Regions from separate parts of the Homo sapiens genome. Here region 1 is linked to region 2. The links come from fine-mapping of genetic effects on gene expression. A gene starts in region 2. The other region holds a variant in brackets. All regions are shown on one strand. Distances are from middle to middle.

Evidence for each region.
Region 1: its variant is fine-mapped to the expression of CEP43 in whole blood (TOPMed, PIP above 0.99).

The regions. Positions count from the first base shown.
Region 1 is chr6:167,084,487-167,100,650 of GRCh38, reverse strand. No RefSeq gene overlaps it. Among named protein-coding and RNA genes, the nearest start is that of CCR6, 31 kb to the left of the region's middle. RefSeq lists enhancers at 5,106-5,185, 5,386-5,445, 6,776-7,145, 7,256-7,325, 8,211-8,270. The variant C/G (reference allele first, on the strand shown) is at 7,665.
Region 2 is chr6:166,995,808-167,003,807 of GRCh38, reverse strand. CEP43 (centrosomal protein 43) reads right to left here and starts at 4,411. Exons shown (of 13, transcript NM_007045.4): 1 at 4,294-4,411; 2 at 3,695-3,748; 3 at 561-615; 4 at 1-85. The coding sequence starts at 4,395. It overlaps MIR3939 (microRNA 3939), which reads left to right and starts at 5,896; the gene lies at 5,896-6,001. RefSeq lists silencers at 3,950-4,039, 4,050-4,209, 4,300-4,819, 5,110-5,339 and an enhancer at 5,880-5,929.

The sequences.
Region 1 (16,164 bases), 93 kb before region 2:
GGATTCATCGATTTGCTGAGGCAAGAAGAATTGATACCAGCACAACAGCCCTGACGAATTGCATAGCGCACCCTTGACGTAAGTAACTCCATCTTAGAAAAACACTCCATCTTATACTTCAAAAGGCACCTCATCACAGGAACCAGAAGTTTGCCTCATCAATAAAGACTGCACCAGATAAGGACATTCCCAGGCACACTCTTCCACTATCAGTCTTCACCAGAGGACTCTGTGGCCATAAAGAACATAAAGAGAGCAGTGCTTCACTAGCTGGAAATGGCCATTTCAACAGACACCATCTTGCCATCACTCATGATAAGCACCCAGCATCTGTCACCAAAGGCTCTGCCCACATCAAAGATTCCTTCTTGCATGACGCTGATGCTGACGACCGCCCGGGCCAGGCCAGGACATTCTTTTTGTCCACATCACTCTACCTGGACTGGCCTGTTAGCCCTTTTTCCTATCCTCTTTCTCTTGACGTTAAATGTCACTTTGTTTATTGTAGAGTGTTTAATCTATAACATCTATGTATTGGTTAAGTATACTCTGATGTACAGTTCGCAGTATTGAATGGCTTGTGGCTTGAGCCTGTGTGCCGGTGGCCCTGACAACTGAGTGAATGGAAGCACTAAGAATTGCCTGCTTGGGAACTCCATGTAGCATATGGCTTTATGAGTAAAATACCATCAGTAAAAGTGTGACATTGTAAAATGACGCAAACGTGAGTAGACCTGGTTATCTCCAACCTTGCGCAGCCCACAACACACATCCACCATCTAATCAGAGATGCAGGCAGAGATTCAGGCCCCATTAACATCCTCCCTAGCAAAAGCATTCAATCTAGAATCACACGTTGTGTTTGTTTCTCAGATTCTCTTTAGTCCCCTTCAAAATAAGTCCGTTTCCTCTTTCCCGGGAACCATAACCTTGGGATGTGGGACAATGGCAGCGTATATGATGTTCCTCAATTTGGGTTTGTTTCGTGTTTCCTTATGACCAGACACGGGACCAACATTTCTGACAGAAATCGCACAGAAGTGGCGCTGAGCTCTCGCCATTGGTCCTATCAGGTGGTGCTCAGTTTCCACTCGTCCCGTTGGACTTGGATACTTAAATCTTCCCCCAGTCCAGACTCCCATTCAGCATTTATTCCCTAGAATTGAGATGCCTCCTGGGACCATGACCTTTGGTTTCTGGGATACTTTCTTGGACACATAAAAGCAAGAGAAGGGACTTTTATCCATGACCAGTTATTCTAGTTATTCCCAGTAAAAGTCATTACTTAAGTACTTTCTCCAAGCAGCCTGAAAACAAAGCCTGCTTTTCCTGTTCACAAATGCCTTTGTCTCTCTTTTTCTCGCAAGTTTCTCTATTCACCTCCTGGGGGATTGTGGTTTTAACTCAACAAGCCCTAAACGTGTTGGTTGTCATCAACCAAGGGTGGGAGTAACTGCTGCCCCCTCCTCTCCATATCCTTCTTCCCTGCAGCTTGGCCTCCTCCTCTTCCTCCTTCTTCCTCTTGCTCCCATTGTGTAAAAGGCAACTCAGTGTTGACTGACATAATCACAAAAGATTAAAGATAATGCAACCACAAGGGGGTTCCCAGGATGTGAGGACTGTGGGTTGAACAGAATCGACACCCATGGCTGGAGTTCTAAGAGGAGCTACGGAAGACAGACGTGCCAGGAGATGCACCCACAGCAGATGCTCTTCATGCACCCACAGCAGATGCTTTTTATCCCCAAGGGTGCCTGACATGGGGCAGCAGGGAGGGGAGCTAGGAGGTTCCCTGCAGAGTGAAGCGTGTCCATGGAGGAACCCAGGGAGGAAAACTGCAGGGAGGTATGGGGAGCAGTGTGGAGGTGTCTCGGCGAGGTTCGTGCCTGGAGACTGGAATAAGGATGTTAGACTTGGGCTTTAGAAAGCAGGTACTTTGACCTGGGGACAGGGGCACTTCCATCATAAGAAACTTACTTCAAATTGTTAGAATAACGTGCCCCACACATCCACACCCAGATCGGTCCTGGGAAGCTTTCCCGGGCCTTGAGGAGCAGCGCAGCAGGAGTAAGGTCCAGGGTGGAGCGCTGAAGGATGCAGAGGCGTTTGCCACACAGGTGAGAGTCAGAGAGCACTCCAGGCCTGAGGGACTGTGTGACTCAGCCTGAGGCCAGGGAACCAGGTGCGGGAGAGAGAGCAGGGCTCCCCGATTATGACCTCCGGGCATCCACAGGACCCCACGTTTGTGCAGGGCACACTGGGGTTAGCGGGGGTGGTCTGGGCACCTAGAAGAGGCTTGGTGGAAAAAAATTGTTGCATTTCCTGTGTATAGGCGGAAGAATTATATATGAGAAAAGTAAAACAGGAGGTATCAGGGAAGGTATTGAACTGAATCAAACTTGCAAGCGGAATCTCTTCACTTTTTAAGTAGAAAACTGAGCTTGCATCCATGAACGTAGCTTTTTATATCTGGTATTAGGCTGGGAGTGGCTCTGTGGAATCCCCTTGATGAAGACATCTCCCTGTGTCGGAGCGCCGGCTCCAGCACCCGGAAGGACCCGAGAAGGCGGAAAGGCACCCTTGGAGCCCAAGACGACAGCCGCCCTGAGCTCCAAAAGGAAAGCTGTGAAGAAACCCAGGCGGCCATGACTCGACATCAGGAAACACTTCAGGCCACGCTGTCTAATGAACACCCTGTGGGCATTTAGAAGTAAACGGGACAAGCACTTCGCGTGCATCGGCCCCAGCCAGCCTTGGTTCGGTTCTGGCTGGGCCTTGAGCGCTGGGCTCGGGCAGCTCCACCTCCCGCAGATCTGGACTTCAGCAAAGCATCTCGCAGATTCCTTTAAAATCTCCTGAGAGGCCGGGCGCGATGGCTCATGCCTGTAATCCCAGTACTTTGGGAGGTCGAGGTGGGCAGATCACCTGAGGTCAGGAGTTCAAGACCAGCCTGGCCACCATGGCAAAACCCCCTCTCTACTAAAAATACAAAAATTAGCCAGGTGCAGTGGCAGCCACCTGTAATCCCAGCTTCTCGGGAGACTGAGGCAGGAGAATCGTTTGAACCCAGGAGGCGGAGGTTGCAGTGAGCCAAGATCGCACCATTGCACTCCAGCCCGAGTGACAAGAGTGAAACTCTGTCTCAAAAAAAGCAGAAAATAAATAAATAAAATCCCCTGAGATAAAATGGCAAATGTAGGCCGAATGACCCTGCTGCTTAGGTAGATTCCTTGCTGATTGAGTCACTTTGTACCACCAGGAATGGGAAGTGATATTTTTGGTGTGAAAAGAATTGATTAATGAAATGCTACATGATCGTGCCATTGGCCTTGTGCTGGTCAGAATTATTTTAAATCAATGAGTTGCATGCAAAAGGGAAAGATGATTATCAAACCTGCTGAATTCTAAGATCTGTGATGGACAACAGATGCTACAGATAGTGCTCAAGGTTCCATATTATCTCATGTGGTTGGAATTCTGAGCTGAAAACAATAAAATATGAAGATAAGGAAATTAGAAACATGTAGGTTTCCAGGGCTCTGTCTGGGACGCTGCTGTCCAGCAGGGATGTAACGTGAGCCACGTATGTCATTTTAATTTTTTAGCAGCCACATTCAAAAAAGCAAACCGAGGCCGGGCGCAGTGGTTCACACATGTAATCCCAGCAGTTTGGGAGGCCAAGGCAGGTGGATCACCTGAGGTCAGGAGTTTGAGACCAGCCTGGCCAACATGGAGAAACCCCATCTCTACTAAAAATACAAAATTAGCCGGGTGTGGTGGCGCATGCCTGTAATCCCAGCTATTTGGGAGGCTGAAGCAGGAGAATCTCTTGAACTCGGGAGATGGAGGTTGCAGCCTCCGCACTCCATCCTGGGCAACAGAGCAAGACTCCATCTCAAAACAAACAAACAAACAAACAAAACAAAGCAAACTGAAATTATTAATTTTCCAAATATTTTTATTTTAACTTGATATATCTAAAATATAATACATTCAACATGTAATCAATAAAAATTGTCAGTGAGATCGTTTAGATTTTTGTAGAAAGTCTTCAAAATCAGGTGTGTAGTTTATATTTATAGCACATCTCACTTCAGACTAACATGCTTCAAGCACTCTGTAGTCACACATGACTGGTGGCTACCATGTTGGATGGCACAGGTAGGGAAATTGGTATACATAAAAGTGATCAGACGAAGGTCATAGGTCACAAGTCTGATATAAGTCCCTGTCACAGATAATCCAGTCTTGGGCAGTGCTAGTAGTAGGGTGTATGAATTATCTATTGCCAAAACAACACTGCCCGAGAAACAACCCTAAAACCTCAGTGACACACAGTGATAACCATTCAACATTGCCCCCAAGTCTCCAGGGTGGTCCTAGGGCCACTATGACCTGGCCCAGCACACTCCCTGTCTGGTCAATCGGTCAGCCAGTGCAGGCTGGTCCAGAATGGCCTTGACAGGAACAACTCTTGTACCTCTTGTGCTCTGTCACCCTCATGCAGGCCAGCCCCAGCCTGCTGTCATGATGGAAGCTGGTTTCCAGCAGGGACCTGGTGGCACAGACTGGAACTGGCACAGCCTCACTTTGCTCACATTCCACTGGTCAAAGCAAGTCTCAGGCCAAGGCAGACTTGGGTGGGGAAGCAGACCCTCCACCTGCAATGGGAGGAGCTGTGGACCACATCCCAGAGGATGGGAGTGCCAGGAACCTATGCATGGGGGCCATCGGCACCATCAATCCACCTTAGCTGGTATTCCAGACGTGGACAGCAACAGGCCCACAGATTGCTATGCTCATCAGTAGAGAAATGGATCATTTCTTCCAGACCTGGACACCCTATCTTAGAAGTGATGTGAGTTGCGTTCAGAAACGCAACCTGAACGGTCACACATTGGGGACCATGCCTTTCCACAGCCACACATCGGGGGCCACACCCCTCTATAAAGAATTATAGCAAGTGAGTGTGTTTAGTCCCAAAATGAGAAAATTAGGGGGCAACATGAGAGCTACCTTCAAATTTTAAAGAGCTACTGTGTGGAAGAAAACAGTCTTGTTCTCAGTTCCCCTAATATTTTCTGAGGGCTCATTATATACTGTACCAGGAACTATGCTAGGTGCAGAGACAAAAGTAGAATAAGGGAAGTTTCCGTAGATACCAGCTCATCCAAAGAAGGACTTTCTAACACATGAATAAGTCACTACTATCCAATAATTCACTTGCCACAGGAGAGCTCTGAAACTGAAACTACTCAAGCAGCTGCATTGTCAAGGGAATTTCTTGCCCAGTTGTTGGTCACTGATCTACCTTCTAAGGGGTCTTCCAAATCTCAATGCTATAAGCTGGCCTTACGTGTGCCTGTTTGGCTTGTGGGGATATAATGTATCATACTTTACATGTACAGACACATCTAATATCTAATAGAGATATATCTAATCAGATATAACAACCTCAAGCAAACCCCAAGTTGCTAGGTGCTTAGTAAATTATTTTGTTACACTGAAGGCTGAAAAAGCACAGAATGATTAAATGACTCAAGATCACGTGAGACAATGGGATAAACTGGAACTGAAACAGACTGTGGGGTGCTGGTCTACGCAGTTCACAAAGCCCCCATTGCTGACTAACCACAAGCCCAGAGGGAAGGCACATAGACTACTGTGCCCCTGCTACTGGTTAGGTTTTTCTTTTACACAGAGAAATAATTTGACTTTATCTAGGCTGCTACAAAGCCAATTGTTAACAGAACTAGGATTAGAATTCAGAAGTACTAGGTGTCAGGTTTCTGTACAAAGAGCAATAGTATTCCACTGAAGCACTTCTGTTTCCCTACAAATACAACCTATCTGTGACTGTGAAACCTCAAGGAATTTGTATTGAGAACCGCTGGCGCGAAGCGGGTGATAACGATAAGAACAGGCATTGTGCACAGCTAGAGGAGCCGTCTGTGGAATGCCGATGGTCGTCTCTTGGTAGAAATAGTAAGAAACCTTAGAACTGATCTTCTTCATTCTGGAAGGCATGGAAACAGAGAACAAGCTGGCCACTGCAGAAAGTTGTAAGACCTTTCGAGGCTGGCTCGACTGCAGCTGCGTTTTGCTTGGCTGTGAGTTTGCAGAACTTTGAGGCTTTCGGGGGAAGGTAGCTAAATCTGTATCAGGGCCAAGGGCACCCCTGGGAAAATTAAGAAACACCTTCTCTTTTGAGGTTTAACTCGACTAAAACCTCTCTGATGATTAGGATGGCCTCAACGGAAGCCCACTGGCCAAAAGAACATCGATAGTTCCCAGGGGAAATAAGTCGTGAGGGAAGGAAGGGTCAACAGGAAACCAGGACTCAGGATCCTGGGCAGAGTCGGCTGGTTTCAGCACCGTCTGAGGCTCATCAGGAAGCTCCTCTCTCACCGACCGTGGCTCTCAGCACTCAGGGAGCGCCACTGAGCATGCGTGAGAACAGCCGCCCTCAGCTCGCGGGGGTGTCAGCTTCCTTTGAAAACCCCCTCGGGTCTGTGTGCACAAGGCTCTGAACTAACCCTAGTGGGTCACCACGCAGGGCCCCTTCTCAGCGCCTGCTCTCCGCTCCACGTGAGGGAAGCAAGGGCAGCGGAGAACGCGTCCCACGCAGTCAAGCCAGGGATGGGCCTCGGGCTTCCTTTCTCTGTCCACGATGCCTCTGGAAGCAGGATACGGCCCTCGAGGCGGGCTCCTGGGATTCCTGGGAACACGGGAGGGTGAGCTATGAGCAGGCCGGGGCAGGGCAATCATGGAGACTGGACTTTTGCTCATATGGGCAGAAGAGTGATCAGGAAATTATTCTGAATGTGAAAAGACATGGCCAGCGTGTGACCGGCAGATGTGTATCCTCCAGTGCTCTGGGAGAACGCAGCCCCGGCTGGTAGCCCGGGCCCGTTTCTGTGAGGTCAACACTCACACCACGGCCAATGTCAGGCAAACAACCCGGTGTCACCGAAGCAGGGTTGGTAAGAGAAGCACAGCCTGCCCCAGCTGATCGCAGCGCAGCCCAGGAGGCGAGGCCACCGCCCAGAGGATTCTGGAAACAGCTCGCCGGGGCGAAGACGCAGGCACAGACAGTGCCTTCCGTAGGGTTCCAAGTATGCAAAACCCTAGGGGAAGCCTCTTCTATTTAGTCACAGAAAACAGGTGAGCAGTTGCCTGGAGCAGGGAGAGACGGGGAGGGATTGACAGGAAGGGAGCTCAGGGAAGCTGGTGGGAGTAGAAAGTTCTAGATCTTGATTGGGGTTGCAGTTACACTGGAACACAGTCGTTGTCAAAACTCACTGAAGTGGACCCTGAGAATGGATGCATTTTGCTGTATGTAAGTTATCCCAATAAAGCTGATATTTAAAAATATGTAACACCCCTCCAAGCCAATGCTGATATTGTAAGGATGATTTTCAGTACTGGGCACCGAGCTTCAGTACTGGGCACCGAGCTTCAGTACTGGGCACCGAGCTTCAGTACTGGGCACCAGGGTAGGAGTGAGGTTCCCTGATTTTCAGTCTTTACGGAGCTTTTACCCAGAGAGCTGCAGAGGCAGCACTGGCCAGAATTACTTTGGAACGCACCGTCTGTTTCTTCCTTGTTGCTTTTCACTGGTTAGTAAGAAGATTCACGAAGCTCCTCTGCCTGGCCACCTCCCC[C/G]CAACATCAACACACACTGGCACAGGTTCTGGAGGGCATCATTCAGACCCATGCTGTAAACACCCTTTACAGGCTGAGCCCTGAGTCCGTTTCCTCAGCAAAGTACCACAAACAATGTGGTTTAAAACAACGGAAACCTACTTCCTCACTCTTCGGGGGCCAGAGGTCCGAAATCGAGGTGCTGTCAGGGGTGGCTCCATTTGGAGGCTGTGCAGGGAACCGTCCCCAGCCTCGCTTCCCATTTCCGGTGGGGTCTGCAGTTCCTGGTGCCCCTTGACTTGTGAATGCATCACTCCAATCTATGCCTCCGTCTTCACAAACCCTCCGTCTCTGCGTTCTCTCCTGTTTTCATAAGGCCTGCCCTGAATGCAAGATAATTTCACTTTGAGTCCCATAACTAATTGCAACTGCAAAGGCTCTATTTCCAAATAATATAAAATAATATTCCAAATAATATTCTGCGTGAACATGAATTTTGGGAAGACACTATCCAGTTAATAATCATATTAACCGACTCCACTCCTACACGCTGTCTTCAGCCTAGAGCCTCCTGTGGAACTCCAGACGCCGACCCCCACTCAGAGTATTCAGAAGAGTCTCAGATCTGAAGCCAAACTCAATTTCACTCCCCAGACCTGTTCCTCCGACATGTGCTATCATCAAAGCAACAGTCAGTCCTTCCAACTGCTCAGGCCCCAAACCTTGCAGTCGTGCTTGGATTCTTTCTCCACATCAAATACGTCAGCAAAATCAGCAAATGTTCCTGGCCATCTCCAGGATGTATTAATAGTGTATATCCCACATTCATAGCCAGTCATTCCCACTCCTTCCTGCCCCAAACTTTTGCCCTCCAGAGAAGGCAAAGCTTTAGCATGATTCAAATCATGTCTGGATTCTGTTCTGAGCTCCCCAGGGCACCCCACATGCGCCAGGATAATGCCCTGTGTCCTCCCATGACTTAGAGGCCCCGTGGAGCCCTCGCCCTTGCCCTGCTCTCCTCCCGCTGCCCTGTGTCCTTCCCAGCTCTGTTGTTTATGCCAGTTGCCCCGGCAATCACACTGTGTCTGGGATCTGTCCAGCCGGTCCCTGCTCTAGGGCCCTGGTCCTTGCTGCTTCTCTCCCAGGTTGCTCTCCAGACAACCACACTGTCGGCCCCTTGGGTGTCTCAGTTCAAGCTTCCCTGACTACCCAGCTTAAAAGAGCTTCCCGATCCCAACTCCCTTCCTGGCTCTGATGCTGCTTCCTTTTCTCCTGGGCACTGGTCCCCTCCTGGCACGTTGTCGCTTGGATGTAAGGCCCCATAGAGAAGGCGCTTAGCCTGCATTCCTGCCTACCCAGGGTCTAGCGCAGACAGCAGGCGCTCAAGAAAGAGTTGCTGAGTGAGCGTGTGAATGAAGACTTGATGACTGACATACAAAATTAAAGAATCTGGGGTTTTTTAAAAGCTTATCTCATTTTTTGCAACAATCTTTAGACCTGATCTTCGATCAGCCTTTAGCTGATGTATAGATAGGGTGAGGTTGCCACAATCTGGGGTAGATCAGCTTTGTGACTTGTCATCTAAAAAGGGGAAGAGGTTTAACTTGAAAGAGAAAAAAAAAACAGTAGACGACCTTTATGTGGAACAGTTACGCGAAGCCTCATCGGTGGCCAGGCAACTTCCTTTCCAACTTCTTCTTACTCGGGACCCTCTGCCCATGTTTACATCTTGCCAAAGACCATGGAAACTGGTAAACATCTTGCCAAATAAAGCTGTTTAGACTGACTGAACATGCAAAGACGCCCTCTGTCCCTTGGACAACTACAGGTCAGGGAAATGAATGGAAGTCACATGAGACTCTACTCTTTCAAATTCCCTTTTAAAGTGGAAATTCCCTCGCTTGGTTATAGTATTAAAGGGAACAAGCCTAAGAAGTGGAATTACAGGAAAAATGGGCACGTGAGGATATGAGAGTATAGATGGTGTACGCTCATAGATGGTACAGAGTAGATGGGCATCATTTGGATAGAGAAACACAAAACACTCTTTGCTGAACTTGAAGATGATATTGCTGGTTAAGAGCACAGACTTGGGAATTATATCAGCATTTGAATCTCGACTCTTGACCCTACTACTTCCTAATGGGGTGATGTGTGTAAAGTTGTTAATCTTTCTGAGCCCTACCTGCCTCATGTGTGGTATATAGAGATGCAGGCACCTCAAAGGCCTGAGTCTGACACACAGTGGATGGCGAAAATTGGAGAGCTGGAGGAGGAGAGGCACATAGGTCATGCCTAAGTCATGAGAACATACAAACAACAAAATCAACAATAGAAATCTAGCTTCACTTGATTGATCCAGCTTGTCGGAAGATTGCTAAGAGATTCCACTCAACAACTAAACCGCCGTTCCACACTATGATTGCTGACTTGAGGCTGGTAACACCTTTTGGGAACGCTGTCTTGGGAACGTTCACAGGAAAATTGCTCCTTTGGGTACAAGGTTTTGAGATACAATCTCTGGGTCAATGAGTACTTTACATACAGGAACCCCAAAATGGAGGAAGTAGGCTATGGAGGAACAAGAAAAGAAGGGAAAAACAAAGCAGCCACAGAGGCGAGGTGGCTGCTCCCCTTCCTGCCACCTGGAGGAAGTTGGAGGCTAGTTCTGGAGACATCACAGTTTCTATTACTTTGGTTACTTGGCAGAGCCTAAAAACTTCCTCTTGTGTGGAAGAAAGAAAATCCTTTCTGTGTTGCTCCCTGGAGGGAAGAAAACCAGGCTGACTCTTGCTTCCATTTGAGGAGCTCAAAGGAAGCCATTTCCCACGATGGTCCCCCAGGCACAATCCTGCATGGAGCCCAGCCCTGGCCCACAGCTCCTTGACTACAATCCCCTTGACCCATTCATCACCCTTGCCACTGGCCCTATTCTTTGTGACTTGGCTCAACACTGGTGACTTCTTCTGCTGCCCTATTCACCTCCAGTCTGAGACTCAGGAGCATGTGGCCACCTGCTGCCACAGAGATGCCACACACATGGCCCAACGCCAACGGGGTCGCTTAAAATACATTGCTGATCTGTGGCCTATGTCTGGAGGAAAGGGGCCGGTGGGGTCCTACAGTGACCCGAGAGGCTCCTATTCTGAACCACAGAGAGCACCACACCAAGAGGCTGGTGTGATATGCTGCTGGGCCCACAGTTTTCATGGGCCCCATGTGCCTGGAGTGAAAGGTCTTTAGATCAATCAAAGAGATCCAGTGTCTGGGGAGTTCTTGTTTCTTCACACTGACCACTTCAATAACGCAAGGACGGGGATTTTCTTGGCTTTGACCAAGGCTGCAGTCTCTCCAGAGCTGAAAACTCAAGTTACTTCTGCCTGGTTCTGGCCTCCCCTGACTCGGCTCTGCCATTAACCAGTAAAACTAGTATCTCCTGTTCTAGAGGGAGGTCGTCATCCTGGTAGAGGGCCATGTGTAAGGATCTGCACCCCTCTGTTTAATTCTCCAGGAAGGTCACTGCAGCTGAGGTCAACTTCCTCCCCAGAGAAGCAAAACCTGTTGGCTGCAGAGGCTGCTTGTTAAACAGAGAGGCGTTACCTCCAGGAGATGTGTGACATCAGACTTTTCAGGGATAGTGCCCAGAAAGCTCAGAAACTTTGCTTAACAAACTCTTCCAGGTGATTCTGATATTAGCTAAATCTGAAAACCACAGAATTAAATGATGTTAGTTTTTTTCCCTCGAAATTTAAGTTTCATACTGACCCTTGAACTACTTATACTGAAAACATTTCAAACATTGATAGTTCATTGATACTAGCAACTGATCTGAAATTATTACTTTGCCTAAAAAAAACTGACAATTTCAGAATATTATCATTCCTTAGTAGTTTGCATTTATGACATTAGATAGTTCCAACTCCTTCCTCCACTTTGTGCAAATGATTTCATGTATCTTATTTCTACATCTGTCATAAACCCTGTTTACTATTTTTAATTTAGTTAACAATTTTTTTTTTTTTTTTGAGACAGGGTCTCACTCTGTTGCTCAGGCTGGAGTGCAGTGGTGCAGTCATGCCTGACTGCAACCTCACCCTCCTGGGCTCAACCTCCTTGCCTCAGCCTCCTGAGTAGCTGGGACTACAGGCATACACCACCATGCCCAGCTAATTTTTGTATTATTTGTAGAGACAGGGTTTCACCATGTTGCCCAGACTTGTCTCAAACTCCTAAACCCAAGCCATCTGCCCATCTCAGGCTCCCAAAGTGCTGGGATTACAGGCATGAGCCACTGCACCTGGCCACCATAGTTGACAGTCTTTTAAAGAATCAGCCATGAGAAAATGTTTTTAATATCCACTTTTACTATTTCTGGTGCTCACTTCTCTGTGTAACCCCAAATTTTTATCTGGTATAATTTTCCTATAGCCTAAAGAACTACCTTTAACATTTATTGTAGCACAAGTCTCTCAGCAGTGAGTTATCTTAGTTTTTCAGGGTCTAAAAAGCTTTTATTTTTGCCTTTAATTTAAAACAATATTTTAATGGATCTGTAATAGAATAATAGAATTCTGGATTAATTGTTTCAGTACTTTAAGATGTCAGTTCATTAACATCCAGCTTACATGTCTGACAAGAAATCTATTACAATTATCTTTCTTCTTGGGTATGTAATGTCCCCCACAACTCCCAAATGCATTCTACATTTTCTCCTTATCTTTGGTTTTAAAAAGTTTGATTTTATGTGTCTAGGTGGGGTTTTTTTTTTTTTTGGTATGGAGATTTTTTATTTGTTTTTGTATTTATACTGTTGGGATTCCCTGAGCTTCTTGGACCTGAGGTTTGCTGTCTTGCATTATATTTGCAAATTATCTCTTTAAATATTTCTTCTGTTTTATTCCTTGCTGTTTGTTTGCTTGTTCTGGGACTCCAACTGCATGTACATTAGATGATCTCACAGCTCTTGGAGGCCTTGTTAGACAGAGTTTTTCCCTCTATTTTATGTTTTTTTTTTTGTTGTTTTTTTTTTTTTTTTTTTTCTGAGACAAGAGTGTCACTCTGTCGCCAAGGCTAGAGTGTAGTGGTGTAATCTTGGCTCACTGCAACCTCCGCTTCCTGGGTTCAAGCAATTCTCCTGCCTCAGCCTCCCGAGTAGCTGGGACTGCAGGCATATGCCCCCACACCAGGCTAATTTTTGTATTTTTAGTAGAGATGGGGTTTCACTGTGTTGTCCAGGCGGGTCTTGAACTCCTGACCTTGTGATCCACCTGTCTTGGCCTCCTGAAGTGCTGGGATTACAGGCATAAGCCACTGTGCCCAGCCCATTTTATGTTATTTGTGTGTCATTTTATATGATTCCTGTTGACCTATCTTCAAGTTCCTTAATCTTTCTTCAGCTGAGACTAGTTCACTGATAAGCTTTCTGAAGGAATTCTTTATGTCTTATATATTTTTTGTAGCATTCCCACATGTCTTTTATACTCTCTATCTCTCTGCTGAAATTTCCCATCTGTTCATGTATGCCATATGCCTTTTCCTCTAGATCATTTAACAAATTCTTCAGGGCTTTTTTGTATTGTTTTGTTTTTGTTTTTGTTTTGTTTTGAGATGGAGTTTTTGTTCTTGTCGCTCAGGCTGGAGTGCAATGGTGCAATCTTGGCTCACTGCAACCTCTGCCTTCTGGGTTCAAGCAATTCTCCTGCCTCAACCTCCCTAGTAGCTGGGACTATAGGCACCCAGCACCACGCCTGGCTAATTTTTGTCTTTTTAGTAGAGATGGGGTTTCACCATGTTGGCCAGACTGGTCTCGAGCTCCTGACCTTAGGTGATCTGCCCACTTTGACCTCCCAAAGTGCTGAGATTACAAGTGTGAGCCACCATGCACAGCCTCATCAGAGTTATTTTAAAGCCCCTGTCTTAGAGTTCCCACATCTGGGCCATCTTGAATTCTGGTTCTATTGATTGATTGCTTTATAAGTTGACTATGAGTTGTTTTTGTTTTTGTTTTATTTTGTTTTCTTAACTGTCATTTTTTGATTTACTGCTGGAAATCATGTGTAAAAGTAGACACTGTTTATGCCCTTAAAAAATAGTTTCATGTCAGGGTGAGGCATCGCCTCACCCGGGAAGCACAAGGGGTCAGGGAATTCTCTCTCCTAGCCAAGGAAAGGGGTGACAGACGGCACCTGGAAAATCGGGTCACTCCCACCCTAATACTGCACTTTTCCGACAGTCTTAGCAAACGGCACACCAGGAGATTATATCCTGTGCCTGGCTCAGAGAATCCCATGCCCACGGAGCCTCACTCATTGCTAGCACAGCAGTCTGAGATCAAACTGCAAGTTGGCAGCGAGGCTGGGGGAGGGGTGCCCGCCATTGCCAAGGCTTGAGTAGGTAAACAAAGTGGCCTGGAAGCTCGAACTGGGTGGAGCCCACCGCAGCTCAAGGAGGCCTGCCTGCCTCTATAGACTCCACCTCTAGGGGCAGGGCATAGCCAAACAAAAGGCAGCAGAAACCTCTGCAGACTTGAATGTCCCTGTCTGACAGCTTTGAAGAGAGTAGTGGTTCTCCCAGCATGCAGCTGGAGATCTGAGAACGGACAGACTGCTTCCTCAAGTGTGTCCCTGACCCCCCAAGTAGCCTGACTGGGAGGTACCCCCCAGTAGGGGCAGACTGACATCTCACACGGCCAGGTACTCCTCTGAGACAAAACTTCCAGAGGAATGATCAGGCAGCAACATTTGCTGTTCACCAATATCCGCTGTTCTGCAGCCTCTGCTGCTGATACCCAGGCAAACAGGGTCTGGAGTAGACCTCTGGCAAACTCCAACAGACCTGTAGCTGAGGGTCCTGACTGTTAGAAGGAAAACTAACAAACAGAACATCCACACCAAAACCCCATCTGTACGTCACCATCATCAAAGACCAAAGGTAGATAAAACCACAAAGATGGGGAAAAAACAGAGCAGAAAAACTGAAAATTCTAAAAATCAGAATGCCTCTCCTCCTCCAAAGGAATGCAGCTCCTCACCAGCAACGGAACAAAGCTGGACGGAGAATGACTTTGATGAGTTGAGAGAAGGAGACTTCAGACAATCAAACTACTCCAAGCTAAAGGAGGAAGTTCGAACCCATGGCAAAGAAGTTAAAAACCTTGAAAAAAGATTAGACGAATGGCTAACTAGAATAACCAGTGCAGAGAAATCCTTAAAGGACCCGATGGAGCTGAAAACCACAGCATGAGAACTACGTGACAAATGCACAAGCCTCAGTAGCCAATTCCATCAACTGGAAGAAAGGGTATCAGTGATGGAAGATCAAATGAATGAAATGAAGTGAGAAAGGAAGTTTAGAGAAAAAAGAATAAAAAGAAATGAACAAAGCCTCCAAGAAATATGGGACTACGTGAAAAGACCTAATCTACGTCTGATTGGTGTACCTGAAAGTGACGGGGAGAATAGAACCAAGTTGGAAAACACTTGCAGGATATTATCCAGGAGAACTTCCCCAATCTAGCAAGGCAGGCCAACATTCAAGTTCAGGAAATACAGAGAACACCACCAAGATACTCCTCGAGAAGAGCAACTCCAAGACACGTAATTGTCAGATTCACCAAAGTTGAAATGAAGGAAAAAATGTTAAGGGCAGCCAGAGAGAAAGGTTGGGTTACCCACAAAGGGAAGCCCATCAGACTAACAGCGGATCTCTTGGCAGAAACTCTACAAGCCAGAGGAGAGTGGGGGCCAATATTCAACATTCTTAAAGAAAAGAATTTTCAACCTAGAATTTCATATCCAGCCACACTAAGCTTCATAAGTGAAGGAGAAATAAAATCCTTTACAGACAAGCAAATGCTGAGAGATTTTGTCACCACCAGGCCTGCCTTACAAGAGCTCCTGAAGGAAGCACTAAACATGGAAAGGAACAACCGGTACCAGCCACTGCAAAAACATGCCAAATTGTAAAGACCATCGATGCTAGGAAGAAACTGCATCAACTAACGAGCAAAATAACCAGCTAACATCATAATGACAGGATCAAATTCACACATAACAATATTAACCTTAAATGTAAATGGGCTAAATGCTCCAATTAAAAGACACAGACTGGCAAATTGGATAAAGAGTCAAGACCCATCAGTGTGCTGTATTCAGGAAACCCATCTCATGTGCAGAGACACACATAGGCTCAAAATAAAGGGATGGAGGAAGATCTACCAAGCAAATGGAAAACAAAAAAAGGCAGGGGTTGCAATCCTAGTCTCTGATAAAACAGACTTTAAACCAACAAAGATCAAAAGAGACAAAGAAGGCCATTACATAATGGTAAAGGGATCAATTCAACAAGAAGAGCTAACTATCCTAAATACATATGCACCCAATACAAGAGCACACAGATTCATAAAGCAAGTCCTTAGAGACCTACAAAGAGACTTAGACTCCCACACAATAATGGGAGATTTTAACACCCTACTGTCAACATTAGACAGATCAATGAGACAGAAAGTTAAAAAGGATATCCA
Region 2 (8,000 bases):
CTAGTTTCAGGTTGAAAAACAGCCAAAGTAAAGTCAAGGTTAAAAAACTGAAGAAATTCTGCAACAAGACTAGCCACTAAACGACCTATAAAGATCAAGAAAAAGGTAAGTAAGCAAATCTTCAAAAACTGAATTTTTTAAATTAACATTATGAAATAGATACACTAAATTAATGGAAGAAAGGTTTCTAAATTTTTTAAGTTACAAATTTCCTCTTTGAATAATATGATTAAGTAATGAAAATCTCAATCTCCTGATTTTTTCACTGGGATCATCAGTCTGTAACTAACTGTAAGACAATCATCTCATAGATTTCAGTGTTTCGCTTTTTAATGGTTAATATTGGCTTTTTGTAGTAAAACTGGCTTTAAGCAACAACATCCCAAATCCAAAAATATGTAATAGCAACACGATTGTTGTACAATAAAATATTATTTTAAAATGAGGACCTATAACAATTGAAGACAAAAAAAAAGCCCTGAAATTCCTGATTTCTCCCAAATGGTATCAAGATTCAAAAATTCAGAGATAGATAAACAAGAACAAACTGAACATCTTACCGTCTTTGGTATTTAAAAACTTTTTCAGGCTCTCATTAACTAAAGGAGTTTTGTTCTGTTAAAAAAAAAAAAATTTAAGTGTCATGTGTTTACCCTAAAAACAACTACAAAATATAAAGTTTAACGTTTTCATTGATAAAATTATGGTTTTACAAAATCCATTCTACAACTGTTAATTACTACAGGACTTACTTTGTGCTATTTAGTAATTTCTCAAAGTTAATATAACAAAACCATATATGAAGATTTGTATTTTTAATTTTTAAATGTTTTATAAACTGCTTTTGAAGCTAGATATTTTCAAATACCTGTGTGAAATACAATTAAATGTCAACAACTGTTTATTATTTCAAATACATGAAGTTTGATAAAAGTTTTGTCATCTCAGGTATCTACCATTTATAGCATACTTACTATGAACAGGAATTTAATTATACACTTGTAATTCCCAGTTTATCCATGAAATGTGAGATGATCTTATGCGGCCCATAGGCCAACTTATTTTTGTAATTATACATTTATTTGAATAAGTATGGAAAAAATACTTCTAGACCATCAAGCCTGTGATTGTTGCTGAGAAGAGGCTACAGTAGGTAGCACATGGTAAGCTTCCTTAAGACCACATTAATTGCTGCTACAGTGGCAGCCTCATACACTGCTGATGGGAATGCAAAATGGCATAACGAGTTTGGACAGCAATTTGGTAGTGTTTCTTAAAAGTCACAAATATTCCTAGCATGTGACCTAGTCACTTCACCTCTACATATTTTCTCAAGAGAAATCACAGATCCAAGCAAAGACTTGTATGTGACTGTTCACAGAAACCTTATTTGTAATACTCAAAAACTGGAAACAGCCTAAATGTCTGTCAGCAGGTAATGGCTAAACTGTCATATCTGTACAATGTATTAATGAAATGATTTATTAATACATACCACAACATGAATGAATTTCAAATGCATTATGTTGAAGAAACAGACCAAAAAAAAAGAGTACCTACTATACGATTCCATTTATATAATTCTTAAAAAGGTTTGGGGTGGGGGAGAGGGTTACATAAGGGGCACAAGGAAAACTTTTGAAGGTCAAAAGTTTGAAGGATATGCGCAGTACCTTGATTGTGATGATCATTTCACAGCTGCATAAATTAACTATTAAAAATCAAATTGTACATATTAAATACTTTAGCTTTACTATAGGTCAATTTTACCTCAATAAAGTTGTTAAAATAAAAGACAAGGAGAGGAGAGATCCTCAAGGTAGTTGGTAGGCTGGTTCAGGGAATTCTAAGATAGGGAGTCAACTGAAATATTTTAAGAGAATGGAGGGACAGATCAGATGTGTACTATAAACAGCCAATCTAGGAGCAATGTGGAAAAAGGACTTCAGGGAGATGGTGAGGGACACCACGGAAACGGAGACTGGCAAGTAGGAAGGGGATAAGGCAATCTGGAAAAGAAGAAACAAGCACAAAGGAGGCAGCAGAGCACTCCCTTGGGGACACTTCAGATACACACCTGACAGACACAGAGCCAGGTGATGGCTGAGCAGGTGGAAAGAAGAGCAAGGCCTAAGAAACGCTTAGATTTCTTGCCAGATAAATGATGGTCCCATTAAGGGCATAATACAGTGGGCAGTTTAACATACAGGTCTGAAGCTCGGGAAAGAAACATGCATGAAAGTTACAGGGCTGGAGTTACTGGATGAATAAGGTCAGTCTGTGAGACAGTACAGAATGACAACTGTGGATAAGTCTCAGTCAGGTGTACAGGAAAAAGATCATGCTAAAGAAACCAAGGAGTGGTCAAAACCAGGTTGTGAAGGAAAAAAACCACAGCGGTATTAAAAGCAGAATGTGAGTAAAGGAAAACAGTTTACTCCTAATAGTTATTTAAACATGTTTTCAAGCTCAAAAGAAAAGCCATCAGAAAAGGAAGGGGTCAAAGATACAGTAAATAATTAAAGACTTGAAAGTATACACAAGACAGAGTGATTATTCTTGGACAGGACAGAGCCTCTTCTTCTAAAGCAGTAAGGAAAGAGGTACAGATAAACATAGACACAGGTAAGCATTTTCACAGGTGAGCAATAGATTGAGGGACAGGAGAGGAGGACATAAAGTTAGGATCTAATGGCTTCTACCTTCCCTGTGGAGGAAGCAACAAGACCATGTGTTCAGAGAGAAGGAAGCAGGGGTGACATAGAAGGCTACTGCACAGCTAGGGTGAAGAAGAGAGCTGCTGGGCCTGCTCAGGACCTAACCAGGTTGGTACCTGCCAATTTGCAACATCAGCAATCCACAGGATTGACTGACTCTTCTCCAAGAGCACATATGTGCAAAGTGGGAAGAGTTAGTTTGCTGGGTTAAATGACCACTGAGATTTCTTCCAGACCACGTATGACCGTTAAGGCAAGGTAATTAGGGGTCCAGACCCATAGGGTCCAGAGCAAAATGCTGCCAAGAGAAGACTGATGCCTGCACAGACATGGAAAGGGCAAAGAACTGAAGATTTTGATGAAATTAGAGATTAGGTATACAGGTCTAAAGAAGTGAGAGGACAGTAGACTGATTTGTCATACAGCAAGAGTTTAAGGCTTTGATGATGGTTCTATTCTTGTTGACAAATTCCAGAATATTTACTCAGGATGGTTGGTGGGACTCCGAAAAAGTTAAATTACCCACTTAAATATAGAGTAGTGGCTGCACTTTTAAAATAATCGCTGTCTTTTTCATTGTCAAAATAATTGAGTGGTCAGATAATTTTGGGAAAAGTTGCATACTATATACCCCGTTTCATAGGGATTAATAACATATTAGCTTACTAAAGGATCTGAGTGAACCTGCACTTAACACATTGACAATGGCACCATTTCTTCAAGAAACTCCTATGACCATTTGTTTCAGATTAAGCATTAGTATCAGAGTTACTGTGGTACCTTAAGATTACCCCCAAATTCAAAAGCTACACGAAAAAAGAATAATTTTGGCTCTCTCTCAATAGTAATGTAATCCTTAACAGTTCAAAATTATCCCTAGCTATATGTTACTATAAACTATTTTTAAGACGGTTTTTAATGAATAAGAAATTAAGTATTAACGAATACAGCCATGTTAAAATCTGGAAACTTCATACCTCTACTTTTTCTTGCTCCTCTAGTGCTAAAAACACAGCTGCTCGGAGTTCAGCCTTAAAAAAAAGTTAAGAAACAGGAAATTATAATTTCAAGACAATTTTCACAACAAGCTCACATTTATCCAGCAACAAACACGAGCAAGCCAACGAGCTGGGAGGGCAGGTGCAAAGGTCAGAAACGCCTTCCGAAACGTTCTCAGTCACACAAGCTCTCCGACCCCCAGGCTTCGGCTGGACGCGCTGCTTTCCCGCCGCGGATCATGCCCGAGCCTGAGGAAGAGACGCTGGGGCCGCACTCCAGGGCCCAGCTGCGGGCCGCCCGTGTGGCCCCCAAGCCCCGCGGTCCCGCCCCCACGGAATGAGGCAGGGGATGGGCCAGGCACCCCCAGTCCGCGGTGCCCTCCGGGACCACACGAACGAACGAGCCGACCCCCTCTGTGGGGCGGGCAGGACGGAGGCCATGCCGGGGCGCGCCCCCAGTGCCCGCCGGCCCCGGTCCCTCGCCAGGGAGGCGGCCTCCTCGCCGCGACCGTTGTGACGCCCGCTGTCCACGCAAGCCCTGCGGATCCGCCAGGCCCGGCCCCAGCCTCCGGCCTCACCTTGATGCGGTTCAGGACCCCGCTGTTCTCCAGCGTCTGCACCAGCAGGTCCCGCAGCTCCGTGTCCTCCTCGGCCACCACTGCGGCCGCCGTCGCCGCCATCTTGCTTCTCCAAGACAACCGCCGAAGCCGCGCTAACGGCCAACGGCCGCAGCAGGGTACGCTCCGCGCGCGGGCTACGCGGCCGACGCAGCCAAAGCCCCGCCCCGACGCGCAGCGCGCTGGCCCTGCCCCCTGGCGTCGGGAGGCGGGGCATAGAGACCTCGGGGTTGACGCTGGACACCGAGCCTTGGGGAGCGCCGGACCACTGAGCGCCGAAACTTAGGGTCGGCGCTGGGGGCGGGGCTGCGGGGCGCGGGTGGGCACGCAAGGGGCGGGGCGTCGGCGGGGCCTCCAGCCGGCAACCCGTTGGCTGCCGTCGCCTGAGGCGCGAGCTTTGAAGCCGGCGAGCGGTGAGGAGGAGGCGCCCTCGCGTGTGGAGAGCGGACTCCGCCTGGACTCCACCGCCCACGGCCGCATCCCATCGCCGCACAAGATCGCCGGAGTCATATTATCGACGTAGTTAAAGCCCACTAGCCTAAAGCCGGGCGGACTGCGGTAAGGAGGCCCCGAGACCGAACCTGCAGCCCCTGCAGCCCCGGGGGGGCGCCGGGGAAGGGACTCCCGAGAGGTCGCGAGGGGCGGAAGGCCCTGCAGGTTGTCACCCGGAAATAACGTTCTGAGGCCCCCCAGCCAGGCGAACGCACCCTGCTCGGCCACGGCCTCCGAGGCTAACCGGAAAGGTGCCAGGCCGAGGTGCAGGGGCGGGATGGCCCCAGGAAGAGCCGAGGGCCGAGGAGGGCGTTGGGTGGGCTCCGCGCTGCCCGAACTGGGGCCGCAGTCTCCACTCCCTCCTGCCCCGCGGCCCTCCGCCGACAGCCAGGCGCCGGCGGGGAGTCCTGGACCCCTCCCGGGCCCTGGAAGCCCCGTCCCGCCGGAGCTGACGCGCCCTCTTGGTATCCATCCGGCCGCCTGGGCTGCCCCTCGCCCCTCGCCTTGGCAAAACCAGCCCCCGGACCGAGCCCTGCCTTGGAGAGTGTGGGTGCGCAAGGCCAGCCGAGCTGTCGGTTCCGGGGTTTCGGGGTGCGCCACTGTATGGCGGCGTAAGCCGAGAAGTGTCCGAGGCCGGGCTCCAGCAGTTGAGAGGCTGATTTGGCCACGGTGAAGGACGCGCCCGGAGGAAGGAAACGGGAATCCGAAACGGGCGGTGGCCGCGCCTTTCCCGAGGCCGGCGTCGAGGGCTTCAGCGCCTCAGGGTGGGCGGGAGGGGAAGGTCGTGCGACCCGCGTGGCCGGCGGAAAGGAGCAGCGGGAGCCGCGGCCGTAGGGAAGCCACGGGAAGACGGGCGGCTGCGCTGCGATGCGCGGCCCTCTCCCTGAAGCCCTCGGCTCAGGCGCCACAGGAAAGGCTCCTTCGGGCAGGCCTCAGCTTTCAGCTTAAGTTTTTTTCCTTTGGCCGAGTCAACTGCGGTGCCGAGTTGTATTTTCCTTTCAGAGGTGTGTCCGAGAACCATTCTTAGGAGACGCCTGCCGGCCGCTTTGGGATAGGGCCTGTCTGCCCATGCTGGCTTCCAAAGGCCTCTGTGTGTTCCTGTATGTGGGCGTGCACGTACCTGTCACATGTGTACGCGCAGACCACAGGATGTCCACACTGGCTTCCAAACACATCTCTGTGTTTCTGTCTGTGAGTGTGTACGCAGGTGTCAAATGTGTACGCACAGATCACAGGGTGTCCACACTGGCTTCCAAACACGTCTCTGGGTTCCTTTATGTGCGTGTGTATGCACTTGTCATGTGTACACACAGATCACAGGGCATCCACACTGGCTTCCAAACATGTCTCTGTGTTTCTGTCTGTGGGTATGTACACACATATCACATGTGGAAGAGGTAGGAAGAGGCTGGAACAGGTAAGGGTCATGAAGGTGCAGTGCACTATTGTACTGTTTGCGCTTTATATGTGTTTGGTTAGTTTTGCAAGAACATGCTGGTGAAGGAGAGAGAACCCCAAACAATTGATTAGCAGTGCTACTGAAACTCAGATATACACAGGAATGGCAAAGAAACATCTATGAAAAAAAGCAGATTCTGGAACTCCATCTCCCTGAGATTGTCACTCATGGGGTCTGCAGGAAGTTTCAGGAATCTGCATTTTCTTCTAATAAACGTGGTCCACAGGTTATAAGTTGAGATACAAATAGAATATATAAAGTAAAAAAGGAAAATTTGAAGTTTCCTGCCTAGCCCAACTCTTCTCATTGGTAGTGTCTGTTAAATTGGAAACATATCTCTTTCCAGACATATTAATACCTTTTATACAGTTGACTCTTGAACAACATTAGTTTGAACTGCGTGAGTACACTTATATGTGGATTTTTTTCAGTAAATGGAATATTTTTGGCGATGGCAACAATTTTGTGAAAAACCTCACAGATGAGTCGCTTAGCCAAGAAATATGGAAAAAAAAAGAAAAGAAAAAGCTAGATATGTCATGAATGCATAAAATATATGTAGATACTAGGCCATTTTATTATTTACTATCATAAAATATATACAAGCCTGTTATAAAAAGTTAAAATTTATCAAAACTTACACGTACAAACAGACAGTTACATGGCACCCATTAGGTTCAAGAGAGGTGTAAACAGTTGTAAAGATGCAATATTAAATAATAACTGCATCAAATTCACTGTAGTACATAGAGTACTACTGTAATGATTTTGTAGCCACCTCCTGTTGCTATTGCAGTGAGCGTCAGTGTTGCTGGTATTGGCTAAAAATTCCAAGTAACATAATCATCTCTGAGTGAGCAGTTGATCTCTCCAGTACATTGCATATCACAGTAAAAGGTAAGCTCTTGAGGTTCTCACATATTTCTCGTTGTGTTCACTGCAGTACTGTAAACCTTGCGTAACACCATGGGACCATTACGAAGTGCCGCTAGTGGTGCTGGAAATGCTCCCAAGAATCAGAGAAAAGTTAATGACATTACAGAAAAAGCGGAATTGCTTGCTGTGTATTGTAGATTGAGGTCTGCAGCTAAGGTCGCCTGCCATTTTAAGATAAATGAATCCAGTATAAGGACTGTGGTATAAAAACAAAAGGAAGTTTATGAAGCCATCGCTGCAGCTACACCAACAAGCATGAAAACCTTGCACTTTTTGGGAAATACCTTTTTATCTCATATTGCAAATGCAGCTTTTTGTGGGTGCAGGATTGCTATGAGAAAGGCATACCTATATAATCTAATATTCAAGAAAAAGTGAAGTCATTATCTGACAAAGCAAAAGGAAGATGAAGGAAGGTATGATAATTTTAAAAAGTGGGTTGGCTTTCAAAAAATGTCAAGATAACAGGAGAAGCAGCTTCTGCTGACCCAGATGCAGCCGACGAGTTCCCAGATACCATTAAGGAAATTATTGAGGACAAAAGGCCAGGCTTTGTGGCTCATGCCTGTAATCCCAGCACTTTGGAAGGCTGAGGTGGGTGGATTGCTTGAAGCCAGGAGTTCGAGACCAGCCTGGCCAACATGGCAAAACCCTGTCTCTTCTAAAAATACAAAATTTAGCCAGGTGTGGTGGTGCACATCTATAATCCCAGCTACTGAGGAGGCTAAGGCATGAGAATCGCTTGAACCCAGGAGGCAGAGGTTACAGTGAGATTGCACCA